4 separate regions of the Homo sapiens genome follow, and regions 2, 3 and 4 are each linked to region 1. Evidence: fine-mapped expression QTL. A gene starts in region 1. Each other region holds a variant in brackets. All regions are shown on one strand. Distances are from middle to middle.

Region 1 (4,299 bases):
AAGCTAGTGAGCTGTCTGCTGCTTTTGTAAAGAAATATAACACCGTGTGAATAGGATGTTAACAATATGAAAAAGACTTGGGTAGATTAGAGGGCTTCGTGGAAGTGGAATGGGAAGGAACCTGTCATGAACAATTTTCTTTTTGGAAGGGATAGGTGGATGGGAGGATGCAGAGAGGAGTGTAGCAGAAAAGCAGAAGGACTTGGGTTAGAAGACTAGATGTGTAGTCTCAGCTGTTCACCAATTAACCTAATGTCTCTGGCCTCAGTTTCCTCATTTGCAAAACAGGGGCGATAACTGTAGCCCACCTTGTGGGGCATTGTGAGAATTGGTTGAGAAAATGCATATAAAGCACTTAGGACACAAGCACAGCTACTGTGAGGATGACGATGAGGATGGTGAAGAACAGGCTGTGCAACTTTGGGAAAGTCACTTGTATACACCGGCCTCAGTTTCCTCATCTACAAAAGGAGTGAGTTCCACAGGATCATCTGTAATTCTGTTTAGCAACATTTTTTTTTCAGCATCTTCCCTGTTGGTGCCATTGGGCATTCAGAGAGGGTCAAGGCCTGGCCTCTGCCCTCCAGAAGGACAGGGTACAGGCACACACATAGATAACTCTAACAGAAGACAGGGTCCCGCGGAGCTGCTAAGTTCCTGAGCATGCGTGTTTGGGGAAGGGGTTTCTGGAGAGCTCCGTGGGGAGGCAGTGCTTGACCTGGGCTTTGAAGACAGAGATTGTGTCTTTCCCTGCTGAAAAACACTTTGTCCTCAAGATAAAGGCCAAATTTCCAGCTAAGCACACAGGTTCCTCATGATGTCCTCAGCTCCCTTCCGCTGCTTCTCCACTGTTTTCCCACTGCACTGTGATACTTCCAATTCTTGAAACATATTTTATACCTTCCCTTGCTTTCCTTCCATCTTTGTGCATGCTAGTTCTTTTGACCTGGGACTCCCTCCTCCCTCTGTTAGGGGACAGCAGAGGGGACAAGCAAGGCACTAGGGTCGGACTGGGGGATTCATATCCTACCTTTGCCACTGAGAGGCCAGTGGGTCGCCTGCTGTGTTGCTCAATCCCTAGGTGAGTCAGCGTCTTCATCTGCAAAATGGGGATACAAGGTAACAACAGTGACTCCCTCAAAGGGCAATGGTGAGGATTAAATGAGGTAACACACGCAAAGTGCTCGCCAGGCAGGCCCACAGTAATCATTGAATAAATATGGGCAGTGTGGCCCACTCCTACTTGCATTTCAGGTCTTAGCTTAGTCATCACCTCCTCTGAGGTTGGCTGTGTGCTCCCTTAGTACATGGTATCTCCTCTTCTACCACAGCCCGGCACCTGTCATCCCCACCACACTGCAAACTCTCCGAGGCCAACAGCCAGTCGACTGGGTTGGCTGCTGGTGGGGACGCATAATAGGCATTCAGGAAATACTGAATGAATGACATGGGGTGAGGGTCCCAGTGATACGAGGGCGTGCAGAGGCTGTAGGGGGCAGTCCGGGGTGGGGGTAGGTCGTGAGACTGAATGGGCAGGTGGATCTCAACTCTGCGGGGGACAGAGAGAGCATGGGCGTCCAGGCTGTCCAGGGCTCCTTCTTGCCCTGGGACTGACCCTGGGAGGGCGCAGCGCCCTGGGAGAGGATGGTGCTCAACTTTAACCGGGTCGGCGCCCTCGGGAGAAAATGCAGCCTGACGGGTCGGGTGAGCGCGCTCGGCCCCGCCCCGGCCCGGCCCGGCCCCGCCCCCGGCCCCACCCCCGGGCCTTCGCGGTGCAGCTGAGGCTGCAAGTAGCCGGCGCCGTCCCGCGTCGCCCCCGCGCAGGGCGGGCCCCGCACGCTTATTCTGCCCGGGAGGAACGCCGGCGTCCAGCCCGCTACCGACCGCCGCTGCGGGATGCTGCGCTCCACGTCCACGGTCACCCTGCTCTCGGGCGGCGCCGCCAGGACGCCCGGGGCGCCCAGCAGGAGGGTGAGTAGCGGGGGCGGGAGCCGCCGCCGTCCCGTTCCCCCATCCCGGCCGCCCCCTCTAGAGGGGACTAGGGATGGGAAAGCTCGGGAGCCAGCACCTGGCCCCGACGCCCCACCCTGGGCTCAACTCCCCGGTCCTGTGCCGGCTCTGGCAGTGACCCTCCCGCTTGAGGTTTCAGGGGGCCCACCAGCTGGTAGGAGAGGGCTTAGGGGACTTTATGGAATTCCCAGAGATTTCCTCTCCTTCCTGCCTTTCTGTCAAGCCGAGTTTATTGGCGGCACCAGTTTAAAAATGAAGGAAGACATTTGTGCAGTGTCCCTACCTTGAGACTCAAAAGTAATGAATGTATTTAAAACTCAAACTTTCCTTCTTCCATTAATTAAAAGAAAGATGGGGTCACTTGTGTCCACTAGTGATAGGGTATCCACTAGTGATAGGGTAATTCTGGAGTGGGGTTAGCCAAGGTGGGCAAACCAGAACAGCAGCCGGCCGCCCAGGAGCCCGACTGTGTGGGACTCCGGTTTATGTAAACCACTTTCTTCTGTCTGATTTAAATATTAGCACAGTGACAACAATGGCAGCACTGAAAGCTTGGGACAGCATCTCCAGGGAAGGTTTCCCTTTGGAAGTGCTGTTTCTTTTTGATCTTTGTGGCATCTTTTCCCATCTCTCCAGATGCTCTGTAAAAGAAATGCTCCATCTTTCTAACACGGTCAGCACCTTAGAGCCACAGCCAGGGGCTTGGCTTGTGGCTTTTTAGTTCTTCCATTTATCATGATGTTCAATACTTATCATTTGGTACCTCTTTGCTCTGATTGAGACTTCTGTAATCGTGTTTCCTCAAGATTTAAACAGGTGGTTAAGTCCAAAGCAAAACCCCCACTGGTTCTGTCTGCGTGCAGGCTTGGACCTGCTTATTTGCTTTTACATGCCTTAAGCGAGTGATGGTGGTCACCTTATAAGCTGTCTTTCTTAGCTCTAGAAGAAAGGTGTGTTACTCTTGGGCATGGGCCAACTGATGGATTCTGGGGTGTGTGTGTGCGTGCACTCACCAGACACTTAGGTTGTGTACACAGGCGCACACACACACACACACACACACACACCCCAGAATCCATCAGTTGGCTCATGCCCAAGGTTGACAGAACTCCAGTTGTCCAATCATTAGCATCATAGAGTAAGATCTACATTGGGTCCAAGGGGGTTTCCAACCACAGTCCTGGCCTTACTCTAAGTTGGGTGTTTGTATTTTTCTATGGAAATCTTTCTCAATTTGAACACAATTGCAACTGAGAAAGAATGAAGTCACTGAAAAGCTAACCCTGAGCCCTGAGAGGATCATATGTGTGACCAGACTGCATGAATTGCATGAAATTCTCTGTAACTTCCCTTCCAGAGGTGGGGATTAGTTGGGGTACCTAACCTAATACGGTGGGTTGATACAAATGTGACTAGTATACAAATAACATTTCTGAAGATTTTGGGTCAAACGTTTCCTTTGGAATATTTATTTAATTATAGGTGCTTTGCTGTCGGACACATTGTGACACTCTTGAAAAGACTTTGCCTTTTGAATAAGATGGCAGACGTATTTTGGACTGGAGAACTCAGGGCTCGGGATCAGGCCATTCAGGGCTGTCCTGGGTACACTGGTACTTGTTTCTGGAAGGAAGGTATCTAAAGGGTCTAGGGTTCTGCCCATCTTTATGGTTTCTAGCTCTGCTCATGATTTGCAGATGTTACAAGTACTATCTGTGTGTGTGCTGGGGATTGTGTGTGTGGTGGGAAGCTGTGAGATGTTGATTAATTGATTTATTGAACATTCATAAACCTTTCTCTGTGTGGTAAAGGGCTGGCATTGGGGTCCGCCCTACCTGTAGAGGCAGACATTTTCCCAAACTAACATCAAACAAAGTGGTGATGGTTATAGTGGGGTGAAGAGTTTACAAAGTTCTGTAGAAGCTAAAATAAAGGTTCTTCCTGAGGCATCAGGGGAAGGCCTCTCACTAAAGGTATGTTTTTTTGAGATGGAGTCTCACTTTGTCATCCAGGCTGGAGTGCCATGGCACGATCTCGGCTCACTGCAGCCTCCACCTCCCAGGTTCAAGCAGTCCTCCTGCCTCAGCCTTCCGAGTAGCTGGGACTACAGGCGCACACCACCATGCTTGGCTAATTTTTGTATTTTTAGTGGAGACAGGGTTTTGTCATCTTGGCCAGCCTGGTCTTGAACTCCTGACCTCAAGTGATACAACTGCCTCGGCCTCCCAAAGTGCTGGGATTATAGGCATGAGCCACCCAGCCCCGCCTACTGGTGATGTTTGAGTTTAA
Region 2 (4,299 bases), 42 kb after region 1:
AGAAGCTGCAGGAAGAACAGAGGAAGCACAGTGCTGAGAAGGAGGCTCTTTTGGTGTGTGTGTTGTAGCTGCCGATGTAAACTTACCGGGAATTGTTGGTTCATTATTGTTGGTGATGTATACGTAGTAGTGTTTATTCTTAGAGGTGGGTCAGTAGACTCAGCCATGGGTAAGGGATCAAGGAATTATTCATCTGCTCATTCACTCCCCTCCCCTCTTCCCCTCTGCCTTTATTCATCCCCGTCTCTACTCAGAATAGCCCCTTGTCTCTGTCTCTAAATACACACCTTTTTCTAGCTCATCTGACAATTTGCCAGCATCTAAGCAAACCCTGGGCTTGCCCGCAGCTGTGCCCTCCCTCCCTCCATTTGGTTCTCTCTACCTGAAATTTCCTCCTTCCCTATCTTTGATCTTGCCTAAGCTCCCTAAAAGCCTTAAATGCCACTCTCTCCATGCCTGGAGTCTCTTCCAGTCATGGAGCCAGAACCATTATCTGTCCTTAGGAAGCTCACTCACTCTCTCTCTGCTTTTACTTTGGAATTCTTTTATACCTGCCATTAGAGTGGGGCTGTGCGTCTCACATCTTGGCTTTTCCAGGAGATTATAAGTTCCTGAAGGCGGGGACTCCATGTCTGGCTCATCTGTGTCCGTAGAGGCTTAATACATGTTCTGATGATTGACTGGGTTTTCTTGTTAGTAATGAGCTGATGTATTGCATTATGGGAGAAGGATCTGGGAATTCTGCATTCAATTCCAGATCTGGTTCTAATTCCCTTACACTTCTGGCAAATACAGTGACATTCTGAGCATCTACTCAATGTTATTAAACATTTGTAGGCCTCTTTTACACCTTTTGGATATAAAGACTTAAGGGAAAAAAGGGAAAAAAATGTAGTGAGGCCCATTAACCAGCCACATGATGTATCTTTATTCATAGGTGAGAACCAGAACCGTGAGGTTGAGTTCATGATCTGTGAGACACTTTCAGGTTCCAAGGTCATGTTTTAAAGAGAAATCGTGATCTAGCAAGGCCTGAGCTGATTGGATCCCGGTGAGTAGCCTCGGTACTCCATGCCTGTACTTAGGAGGGTATATTTCTTTTGCAGGAAGAAACCAATAGTTTTCTGAAAGCGATTGAAGAAGCCAATAAAAAGATGCAAGCAGCAGAGATCAGCCTAGAGGAGAAAGACCAGAGGATCGGGGAGCTGGACAGGCTGATTGAGCGCATGGAAAAGGTAGGACACAGCGTTGGGCCTATTGCCCACTTGCCCAAACTTTTCCCTGTAGGTCCATCTGAGATACGAGAGGCCCTGGATATGGATTCCTCTCACCTCCAAAATTTGCAATTAAAAAAAAAAAGACAAAGCTATAAAATAAAGTATAAGGAAGTCCAACAACGTTCTCATTTTTCCCATGATAACTATTTTGATGCTTTTAAAAAATATTACTTGTGAAATTCTTTAGAAAAATTAATATTTTAGCAGCCTTGCTTTGCTGGTGCCCCAGGTGTGAACTTAGTTTATCCATTGAATTATCAAGCCCTATTTAGGTGTTACATCAACACAGCAGCCCTGTTGTTTCTGGGGCATGTGTCTCAAGGGTTGGCTTTTCCTTGACACGCTGGGGACTTGAGAGAGTAGGGAGGCCCCATTTCTCTAGGTGTTGTAAGCAGGCTGGTGAGTGTGGTGGGGGAACCTGAGGAAGGCGGGAGCTCAGCTGGGATAATGAAGCCTGTCTAGTGAAAGGGAAGAGGCCAGGAATTAAGTAGGAAGTGGAGGAAGGGGAGGAAGTGGTGGGAGAAAGGAAAGAGGAAAAGAAGGAAGAGAAGGAAGAGAAAGGATGGGTGACCTTTAGCAGGTGACGGCTGACTTCTGGACCCAGGAGTTCAGGGCCAAGTCTGTGGCTG[G/C]TTTCTGGGAATGGCTCCCTGGCTGCATATGAGTTTGCAGAGAGCAGTGACCTGCCAAGACCCTGACATTATTAGCACCCTGTGACTCATTCGGGATGCCAAGAATCTCCAATCTGATGATGGAGGCAGAGGTGGGGCAGCAAGAGCAAGGTCACTGTCAGGCTTCATGTGATGCTGAGAAGAGGTCGCCTTAGCTAATGGTGTTTGCAGCATAAGCCCCTGTACTGTCCCCTCATAAGGCGAGGTGTCGCCACTATGGGAACTGCATGAAATTCAGTTCTGTGGAGCTTCAGAGCTCACTGGGTGCTTCGTTTTAGCTCTTTAGCTTTTTACTTGGGAGAGACTTGGGCAAACTAAAGAGTCAATTACAATCTCCCTTCTACCCCCTGGGAAAACAGAATCCCATCTTTTATTGAAGAGTAGGTGATTGGCTTAGTCAGGACTAACATTAGTATTGACCAGAGGGGGTGGTGGTGAAGATTGGGCAACAAGGGAGCTTTCTAGAGCTTGAGTGAGCTTCCTCCCACATTATTGTCCTCCTACAACAGCAGAAGATCCCAGTTAACTCAGATGCTCTCTCTCTGGGCAGCAGGTTTTTCTGCAGCGTAAAGAAGCAAGGTGAGCCGGCAGCATAGCAGGGTGGTCTGGGGGAGATGCCGTCATACAGAGAAACCACAGGTAGTGGTCATGAACATAGGCTTTAGAATCAGACAGTCTGGGGATTTGAATCTTGTGTCTCTTTGTAGTTGTTTGCACTTACTTGGTTTTTCCTAACTCAGTCTCCACTTCTGTAAAATGCTGATAATGGTACTTCTTATTCTTAGGGCTTTTGTGAGCAATAAATGAGAAAAATCCACGCCAAGTGCTAAGCATGGTTCCTCGTATATAGTAAGGGTTCGATCATTTGTGGCTATGATTTTTACTCTGTTACGAGGTTGCCTAAATGTCTACCCTCAGAGTCAGGTTGTCTTTAGCACGACCCATTTTATGCTTATCTTCATTGCTGTCTTGAGGTTCTGAAAGTTTCTTGTCTTTCCCCACTGATTTTCACATGGAGCCCTCATGTGGGATGAATGGGTAGAGCCAGGAAGCTGGTAAGGCCAGCCCTCCCTGCCAGCATTTAGGAAACACAAAACCTTCCCCAAGTGGTGTTGGCTTCTTCTTTAGTGATTGGAAATGTATTGTCCTTTCTCTAAATCTTCCTTTCCATTTAGGCTAGAGAAATGCTCTATTTATTGAACTAACATTAGGTAGGCCAATTTACACTGTTTCCTTTTCAGGGATAAATCTGTGAGAGCAGGAATCTGGCCAAATCGCTGTCTCACACTACGTGAACGGCATGTCCTAGGCAGGGCTGTGGCAGTGTACGTATCCTGCTCTCAGTTTTGGATTTTGCTCAAGGACAAACCATGTGCTTTTGAATGGCTTCTCTGCCATATGCCTTAGTTTACTGTTTCTCTTGCTGAGCACTGTATTTCAAACACCTTTTTTTCTGATCAGTAAAAATCTTTTAAGGAGTGTTCTCTACCAGGGACCCTTCTGGGGAACAGATAATAGTCTATGCCATAATCTGGGCAGTGGTTTCACAGGTGTTTACAAATGTAAGAAATAATTGTGCAGTGTACACTTAAGATTTATTGTACCTCAATTTAAAACAAATTTTAAAAGTGTGCTGTAAGTTAGACCTTGCTCTACTTTATGACAGCCTTTTTCTTTCTTGTTTTTTGTTTTTTTTTTCTTTTTGGAGGGAGGCATTCACTTGTGAAAGCTTTTATCACTGTTATTTCGGGGCTAATGTAAAACTTCCAACCACATAGGGGCAGGAGGAATGTTCTGCTCAGGCCAGGCCATAAGAATGTGCATTTGCTGTAGAGATTTAAAAACAGTAACAAAACCCCAGTCAAAGTTGATCTACCTTTGTTATTTTAAATATTTCAGAGATAATATATTCTTCCTGCTTAAGGTGGACTGCTTCCCCACCCCTTTGGCCTACCTCTTGGTATACCACTGCTTATAGCTTCAGAAGTTGTGGCAGTTAAATTTTCAAAGATTTGCTTTTAATAATTTGGTAGAAAAGAGGTTTGGAATCTATGTAGCTAGTAAGAGTTTGCTGGGTGGAATTTCCGAACATAAAGATGAGGAACATTAGTTCTTAGAGAAGGACCTAAAGTAAAATAATCTCCCAATTAGTGAGCGTTATTTGATAAACTTGCATTTTAAGGAAATTTGTTACACTAACATCTGTAATGTATTTTTAGCACAATTTCGGTTATGACAGGCACCATGTTTTTATGAACATTTTTCAGCTTTGTCCAAAGAAATGATTCCAGACTCTTTTTTGGGCAAACTTCTAAATATACATATATATAGCAAAGTGTACAAAGTGCACGGCT
Region 3 (4,299 bases), 29 kb before region 1:
GTGGAGGACTATTTCTGTGTATTCAATGTAGGTTATTTTTGCTGCCAAATGACAATACAAACCATCCACAATATCAGGCTCTTCAAAATTCAAGGATGCGTTGTATAAGAGAATGATTGGTGACTTGGATCTTGTTCCTTTTCCAGGATGTCGTCACCACCAGACCCAGTCGAGACATCCTCTCTCTACCAGGCGCCCCCAACAAGTCCTTCCTTCAAAAAGAGAATAGTTTTTAATAACTTTCAAGGTCACCTGCAAAAGGGTTTCTGTTTGAGTAATGTAATGACTGTAAAGCTGGCAAAAAACTGTATCGCCAGCTGATAGCTTGAGTCAGACTGGAAAATTACGAGCAAATTTTTCCATGAACCAAGAGGAAGTGTCCAGTCATTGTTGAGAGCAGGTTCATAGCTGTGTACGAGCTCTAGGAGATGGGGAGGCCCGTGCAGACCTACTTCCTTCAAGAAGGGAAGACAAAAGAAACACGTTTTGAGTTTGGGTTTTTAGATGGTTGGGAAGTTTATGTTATAGGATTTTTTTTTGAGGGGGGGGTTTGTTTGTTGATTTTTGTTTTTAAGTTATGAGAGTTATTTTCTTTTTCTTCCTTTTTTTTTTTTTTAGAAGGAGTTTCACTCTTGTTGCCCAGGCTGGAGTGCAATGGTGCGATGTCGGCTCACCACAACTTCCACCTGCCAGGTTCAAGTGATACTCCTGCCTCAGCCTCCTGAGTAGCTGGGATTAGAGGCATGCGACACCATGCCTGGCTAATTTTATATTTTTTGGTAGAGACGGGGTTTCTCCATGTTGGTCAGGCTGGTCTCGAACTCCTGATCTCAAGTGATCCACCCACCTAGGCCTCCCAAAGTGCTGGGATTACAGGCGTGAGCCACCGCGCCCGGCTCTGAGAGTTATTTTCTACTAACCAATGATGTACTGCTAGATTTTGGAATAAAAGGTTCTATGTGTGTGGGGAGGGGAGGAAGGAGCAGAATCAAAAAGCCCTGAGCAATGATAGGATGGATTAGAGTTTGGAAAGGGAAACGTGGGGTCCAGAACACACTGGTTAGGCTGTGGCAAGGGGGTCCTCTTGACATCCTCTAACCAGATCTCACAGCACACTTCCTGCCATGTCGCAGCAGAGACCAGCCCTCACCAGACCCGGTGCTGACATTAACCAGGTGCTGCCCTGAGCGAGATGGCGTCCTGCCACGCCTGCTCCGTCATCTGGGAGATGCCTTGTCGGCAGCTCCAAGGCCTCCTGTGGGAAGGCATGAACGTCTGTCCTCACGTCCCTGCTTCCCTTATTACCCAGCGGTGGAAGTTCATCCCCCACTCTCCTATCTTCCTGAATTCATCCCATCCTTTGTTGGCCCTGTGTGTGGTTTCTTCCTGTACTCTCTTTTGTGGATTTTTGTAGAATTTCAGAAGTGATTGTGATATTAGATGTGATCATCTCTGCTCTGCCTGCTGCTGGGGATGTGTGGCACTGACCCACTCTCCCCATTTTCCTCATTGTGGCTCTATAGTCAAAAAGGCTCTTAGGCCCCTTCTAAGTTCTTTCTTCTCCAGGCTAACATCCTTTTCTTCTTTAAGTCCATTTTTAACATTGGTTGTGAGTTAACTCCTGACCTCTCCCCCTCTGTCTAGTCCATGCTGGTCACTCCCTCCTTGCTCTAAAAGTGAAGGTGCTGGTGGGAGCAGGACCTTCTGGCTATCCCCAGGCAGGCCCGTGCCTCCCTCGAGGCTTTGACATTGTGATGTGTGTGTCTCTTCACACCAGGGTGGGAGCCCCTTGAGGGAAAGAACCACGCCTTTCTCTCTCGGGAGAAAGCCCCTGTCAGACAGCAGGCATTTGAAATTAAACAGAACATTATAATTCTGGGTCCTAACCTTTATAAATGCAAGGCAAGACTAGATTATGTTAGCGGATTTGTCAATATTCATTTGGTTCAGTCTTATTGCACAGATAGGCAATTAAAGCATTTTAAATGGGCTGTGCTTAAGTGTGGTCCCCCTCTCATGTACTCCTATAGCAGGCTTTAAAACACTGCATTGCGCTTAAAGATCTGCTTCTTGGATTTGGGCTGTTGAGCTCTTTTCCTTCTTCCACATCATTCCCTCAACTTCTCAAGAAGTTGTCAACTTGAGATGCTGACACATTCTGCAAGTGCACAGGGACACAGCCCTAAGAGTGATCAGCTACCCCCAGTGCCCATCAGTGGTTCAGTGAAGGACGGCATCCCTGCTTAGAATTTGACCATTCAGTCTGCCGGTTACCAAAACCATGTTCATGCTTTAGTGTAAAGGTTTAGCATCAAGGTTACGTCCCAG[G/T]TGATGCTTCAAATCCAAACTTCCCCCTTCCCTGGGCTCCTGTGGTCTTTTGTTCTCTTGCAGCGCTTCCGGACTGTGGTTAGCTGATTATAGTTATTTTTTCCTACATCATTAGGTGGTGAGCTTCTCCGGGACAAAGTCTGTCTCATTATTCATCTTTGTTTGTAGCAGGTGCCTGACAAATACTGATAGAATTAAAATAACTTTTGTTTGTCTCACATTTTGATAAATGAACAGGGCTATATTTACCTGAACGTTTATGATTTCATACATGGACAGCATATTTCCTCTTGGGCTTTTCTCTTCCTAGACTGGATAGATTTAATGATTTTAGTTTTATGTCACAGGACAACCCTCCACCTGGAAGAACTGAAGTTCTATTAAGTTTAGGGGTTTCTGGCTAATTTGTAAATTGTTGAGAAAGAATCCACCTTGTTCTGGTCAAAAGGTGACAAATATAGTTAACTTCAACAAAGGGCAGAGAGTCAGCTATTGTTTCTGCCAATGATTACTTTTGTTATATGCTTGAGATCAGATACTAGTCATTTGTATCCCAGTTAACTTAATATAGATAGCATTTTCTAATATTTTCAAGCGTTACTCTAATGCTTTTTGACGCCTATTTTGAACATCAATCTTTTAAACTCATTATATATTATTCTATAATTTATAGAAAAATCATCACACTTTACCTAATTCTTGTTTGTTTGTTTGTTTGTTTTGAGACAGAGTCTCGCTCTGTCACCCAGGCTGGAGTGCAATGGCGCGATCTCGGATCACTGCAAGCTCCGCCTCCGGGGTTCATGCCATTCTCCTGCCTCAGCCTCCCGAGTATCTGGGAATACAGGTGCCCGCCACCACGCCCAGCTAATTTTTTTGTATTTTTCGTAGAGACGGGGTTTCACCGTGTTAGCCAGGATGGTCTCGATCTCTTGACCTCCTGATCCGCCTGCCTCGGCCTCCCAAAGTGCTGGGATTACAGGCGTGAGCCACCGCGCCTGGCACTTTACCTAATTCTTATAGGCAATATTTTCTTTGGTACTTGGGACTTTTTTTAAAGAATAGTATCCTCAAATTGGAATTAGTGTGTCAAATAATATGAATGCTTTTCTGATTCAATTGGATTTTTAATTTTTATACTTACTCAAATAATTTATACTGACTGTTGAAAAATAGATAAGCAATTAATAATAAAGAAAGTCCCCCTTGCTTTCACTATTTAGAAATAACTACTATAAATATTTTTATGTATATTTGTGTACACTTTTTTCTTTACATGGATGTTTATTTCACAAAATGTGGAATCTTACTGTTTATGCTATTACATAGCTTATTTTTTTAAATTATTGTGAATTTTTTCAGCTATAAAAAGATATTTTCTCAAAAATTTTTTTCAAAAGAATATATTTTTTCAACACAGTTTTAATAATTGCACTGTATTCCATGGAATAATAATACTAATAGTTAACATTTGTTTTGTAATTTTTATATGCTATGCAATATTCTATTTGTTTTATATACCTAAGCTCATTTAATCATCACAATAACCCTGTGAGATAGGTACTATTACTCTATTTTAGCAAAAAAAATTATGCATAGAAATATTAAATGACTTGCCTAGTTATGGGCATACCATAAATGTGCATGACCCAGTAGGTCATTGTAGAACATTTTAGTTATTTATTTTTTGTTTGCCATCATAAGAAATGTTGCTATTAATTCATGAAACAAATATTCACTGAGCTCCCACTCTATGCTGGGTGTTTTGCTAGAAGCTTCGTATGTAAGGGAAAAACTGTTGCAGAAAGTAGGCTTGGCTGGGAAAGAGACCTATTTGAAAGGATCCTGGCATGAGATGGCGTTTTCTCTCTTCTGTTTGCTCACATCGCGGAGGGGAACTCCATACTGCAACAGCAGCCCCTGGCTGGATGTGGTTTTGTCTCTTTCGTCAGCAGGGATATCTCCCGCCCC
Region 4 (4,299 bases), 36 kb after region 1:
CATTGTATGTATTTGAAATAGCTTCCCTTGGTCTTCATTTCCAAATGTATGAACAACAGTTTTTACCTCTCCTCCAAATTTATTTGGCTCTTATCTTTTTATCCTCCTCTCAAAAGTTCCAAAACCTATTTCAAATCCTTTCTGGTTCTATATAAGTAATTTTAGATAAATAAATTTTCATGTTGGGATTCTCCACTTCCCCTAATTCTCTGATAACAGTTGGTATGGCAGCAGTGACAACAGCAGGGCTCGGCCACTGTCCTGGAGTGGGTCTGGGTGGCCTCGTGTTTGGGGTCATCTGCGATGCCCATTTCTGGTGGGGCTTCTGAGTCCCACCCTTTTCCTGGCTCTCTTGAGTGTATGCCAGCTTTCCCCTGGCCTCAGGCCAAGCCCCACTGGGTCTGGTTTGCTCAGCAGCCTTTGTTTTCCCTTCCTCCTGTGGTCGGGGGGGCTTGCCAAGGCTCCCTTTCCTCCCCTTTCGGACGCTGTCTCATTCCCAGCCCACCAGCAAGGGCTTTATCTCACCTGAGTTCAGACTTAGTCGGTATTTGTACTACATCTCTGGTTTTTCTTCCCAGAAAGAAAAATATATTTGCCAGTATTTTCTGGCAATTCTTGTGCTTTGCCATCTGGCCAACACTCTGGCATTTACTGCAGAGGTCAGCTGTTTGAGCTGGGCCAGCTCTGACCCAGGCACCTTGACTGATTCCTAGTTATCATGCAGGCTCTTAGTCCTGGACAGCCAAAGGAGCCTTATAGCTAAAACCGCTGAGAGAAACAGAAAGAGAGAGACAAAGAGAGAGGGAGAGGGAGGGGGAGGGGGAGGGGGAGGGGAGGGGAAGGGGGAGGAGGAGGAGGAGGAGAAGGAGAAGGAGAAGCCATCTCACAGCAGGAAACTCAACCTGGTAGAGGAAGAGGGCTGATGCACGGTGTTAGGCACTGATGCTGAGGACCACTCGAGTACCTGGTGGACCGAGTCTGAAGAGAGCTGGCTTCTTCCTTATGCAAGACCCCAGCCTCTTCCACTGGCCCACTCTGTCCACTTTCATTATTATTGACAGGGAGACCAGACCCTTGGTTTGATTCCATAGAATGTCAGAGCTAGAAAGAACTGAGAGGATCTCAGTTTTATGAATAGACAAACTGAGGCCGACAGAGAGAAATGACATGAGCAAGATGCCTACCTAGTGACAGAGCCAGGATTAGAAAAATCCTGGTCTCTTGGACCAGAGTGTAGGTTTTTGTGTGGATACACGAGTAGAATCTGTGAAGCCAGTGGGGCTGGGGGAGTGGGTGGCTGGTCTAGGTGGTTTCTAAAGCCCCTTGAAGCTCAAATGTTCTGTGACTCCATGCTTCCAAATAGCTTCAGTATTTTCTTTAGTATCTAATCACCTCCTTCAGAAATTCTTTTTCTTGATTCAAGTAGGTTTAGGAGTGAAAGGCTTATATTGTCCAAAGTAGAGGCTGAGGAATTGAGGAAGCTTCAGAGACTGATCATCTAGACAAGAGCACAGAGGTGTTAGAAACAGTGCCCAACACCAGGGTTTTCACATCTTCTAATGTGAAATTGTAGATGACTGGGGACACAGTAGAAGATGACTTTCCAACGGCACAGATTCTGTGGAGGCCATTTATCTCTAAGGAGAGTTAACCAAGTAGAAACCAAAGCAGTAAATAGCACCACCATTTTTTTCTTTTTCTTTTTTATTATTTTTTTAGAGATGGGGTCTTGCTCTGTTGCGCAGGCTGGAGTGCAGCAGTGTGATATAGTTCACTGCAGCCTTGACCTCCTAGGCTCAAGTGATCCTCATGCCTCAGCCTCCTGGGTAGCTGGGGCTACAGGTACACACAACCATGTCTAGCTGGTTTTTAAATTTTTTTTGTAGTTGCCCAGGCTAGTCTTGAACTCCAGGCTCAGGTGCTCCTCCCACCTCAGCCTCCCAAAGTGCTGGGATTACAGTCATGAGCCATCACGCATGGCCAACACTATTGATTTAAACATCCTTGCTTCAGTGCGGCCTGGAGCAAAAATTACTTGTGCGGCTTGGAGCAAAAATCACTTGTCTGCATTACCAAATTCTGTTCCTTAGTACTTCTTTATTACTACCCTTCTCTGCCTAAGGGAGGAAGGTGAAATGTTTGCAGGTATGTGAGTATTCTCAGTCACATTGTCACTATCCTGGCAGGCAGTCTAGAAGCGCAGAAGGGATAGCTCTTTTAAGAAAAAAGGGAGGCCGGGCGTGGTGGCTCACGCCTGTAATCCCAGCACTTTGGGAGGCCGAGTCAGGTGGATCACGAGGTCAGGAGTTCGAGACCAGCCTGGCCAATACGGTGAAACCCCATCTCCACTAAAAATACAAAAATTAGCCAGGCGTGGTGGCAGGCGCCTGTAGTCCCAGCTACTCGGGAGGCTGAGGCAGGAGAATCGCTTGAACCTGGGAGGCAGAGGTTGCAGTGAGC[C/T]GAGATCGTGCCACTGCACTCCAGTCTGGGCGACAGAGTAAGGCTCTGTCTCAAAAACAAAAAAAAAAAAAAAAAAAGAAAAAGAATAAAAAGAGGAATATCTCTATTCTATAAAGCTCGTATTTTGTTTTCTGATTTCATTGTGGCAATTTGGGAAATACAGAAAAAATAAATAAGAAAATAGATACCCATAGCCCTATCACATAGTGAAAACTATCATTCAGATTTCCTCCTGGTCTTTTTCCCCCCAGTGCATAAACATATATTTGAACCAATGCTTATACATATTTTTCAAAATGGGATTATACTATACTTACTATTTTCAAAAGCTGTTTTTTTTCCCATGTGAAATGATGTATTATAATACTTTTCCTTGGAAGGACTCCATTTTAATCCATTTCCATCCATCCTAAGCAGTGGCAAGTGGTGTTGGCAGCAGCTATGGGATGGTATGGGAGAGGTTTTCAGTCCCTCCAAGCTACAGGGGCAGACCTCTTGGCCACCATGGGAGACCCACAGTCCCTCACAGCACAGGGTCCCAGACTGGCAGTTGCTGTAGCCTAGGACAGCTACCCCAGTGCTTAATGATAAGGGGATGCCCCAGCATGTGGTGCAGCCCATGTGTTTTCACGCCACCGGATCTGGTTTTGTTTTTATTTTCATCCTCACAGAAAACCCTCGTGGATGTGACTTTGGAAAACAGCAACATTAAGGATCAAATCAGAAATCTGCAGCAGACGTATGAAGCATCCATGGACAAGCTGAGGGAAAAGCAGAGGCAGTTGGAGGTAGCGCAAGTTGAAAACCAGCTGCTAAAAATGAAGGTGGAGTATAAAAGCCTAGATTTATTTTCTATGAACTTTTCTCCTCTTTACTTCTCCCTTTTCTCTTCCCATCTTCAACCTTTCCATTTCCTTTTCTCCATTCTCTTCTTCATTGGATTTTTTTTTTTTTTTGAGACAGAGTCTCACTCTGTCACCCAGGCTGGAGTGCAGTGGTACAATCATGGCTCACTGCAACCTCCGCCTCCTGGGTTCAAGCAATTCTCGTGCCTCAGCCTCCTGAGTAGCTGGAATTACAGGCACGTGCCACCTTGCCCAGTAATTTTTGTATTTTTAGTAGAGAAGGGGTTTCACCATGTTGGCCAGGCTGGTCTCGAACTCCTGACCTCAGGTGATCCGCCTGCCTTGGCCTCCCAAAGTGCTGGGATGACAGGCGTGAGCCACCGTGCTTGGCCCAGTTTGGGGCTTCTCCATAAATGCCCCCATTGGGCATGCCTTTCTTGGCCTCCAGTCCCTTCAAGGGCTCTTTAGACACTCACCATGGTGCTGTTGTTATGTAACTGAGAAGACGCTTGGGATGCCCACAGATCTGGGACGTCAGAAGCCTTGGAGATCTCTTCCTTCACTGTTTAGATTTTCTTTGAGGTCCCAAGGCCTTTCTGTTTGGCTTGACAATAAAGAGCTGAGGGGCACACAAATAGCTGGTACTTGGGCTGTACCCCAAGTACAATATTCTCAAGAAGAAAATTGGTGGGTGACTAGGGACACTGGGGAATGTCCCATTTGGCCCCCTAGGCTGGGAGCATTCCTTAGCTGAACTTCTAATGCCCTAGAGGCATTAGTGCCCCTCCCAAATTTAAACTGTGGATAGACTTCCTACCCGGTGACAGGAGCAGATCCATGAATGGCTCCTGGAGGGCACTTAATAAATTATATCTTGGATGAATTCCTTTTTATGTAAGTCTGTGGTTTGAAAATTTTGCTCAGCACAGACTTAGGCTATCTTATGAGTAGCGTATCCACATAGTTTATTGCTCAAAGCAGAATATGTGAGGGA

Alleles and levels. Positions count from the first base shown, and alleles are read on the strand shown. Sizes are in standard deviations (SD) of each study's normalised expression. Not every link is listed here.
As copies of G replace C in region 2, the expression in skeletal muscle of the gene that starts at base 1,766 in region 1 goes up (large effect, 0.75 SD a copy in GTEx).

What was found. PIP is the estimated chance that this variant, and not a neighbour inherited with it, causes the effect.
Region 2: its variant is fine-mapped to the expression of GCOM1 in skeletal muscle (GTEx, PIP above 0.99). The same link has a PIP of 0.9 or more in adrenal gland.
Region 3: its variant is fine-mapped to the expression of GCOM1 in whole blood (TOPMed, PIP above 0.99). The same link has a PIP of 0.9 or more in blood mononuclear cells and lung.
Region 4: its variant is fine-mapped to the expression of GCOM1 in whole blood (INTERVAL, PIP 0.98).

What each region holds. Positions count from the first base shown.
Region 1 is chr15:57,590,139-57,594,437 of GRCh38, forward strand. GCOM1 (GCOM1, MYZAP-POLR2M combined locus) reads left to right here and starts at 1,766. Exons shown (of 17, transcript NR_104371.3): 1 at 1,766-1,971. It overlaps MYZAP (myocardial zonula adherens protein), which reads left to right and starts at 1,766. Exons shown (of 13, transcript NM_001018100.5): 1 at 1,766-1,971. The coding sequence starts at 1,897. RefSeq lists a silencer at 1,655-1,764.
Region 2 is chr15:57,632,507-57,636,805 of GRCh38, forward strand. It overlaps GCOM1 (GCOM1, MYZAP-POLR2M combined locus), which reads left to right. Exons shown (of 17, transcript NR_104371.3): 7 at 1-53; 8 at 1,107-1,235. It overlaps MYZAP (myocardial zonula adherens protein), which reads left to right. Exons shown (of 13, transcript NM_001018100.5): 7 at 1-53; 8 at 1,107-1,235. Among named protein-coding and RNA genes, the nearest start is that of MYZAP, 43 kb to the left of the region's middle. The variant G/C (reference allele first, on the strand shown) is at 1,907.
Region 3 is chr15:57,561,234-57,565,532 of GRCh38, forward strand. No RefSeq gene overlaps it. Among named protein-coding and RNA genes, the nearest start is that of GCOM1, 29 kb to the right of the region's middle. The variant G/T (reference allele first, on the strand shown) is at 2,329.
Region 4 is chr15:57,626,571-57,630,869 of GRCh38, forward strand. GCOM1 (GCOM1, MYZAP-POLR2M combined locus) reads left to right here. Exons shown (of 17, transcript NR_104371.3): 6 at 3,132-3,284. MYZAP (myocardial zonula adherens protein) reads left to right here. Exons shown (of 13, transcript NM_001018100.5): 6 at 3,132-3,284. Among named protein-coding and RNA genes, the nearest start is that of MYZAP, 37 kb to the left of the region's middle. The variant C/T (reference allele first, on the strand shown) is at 2,461.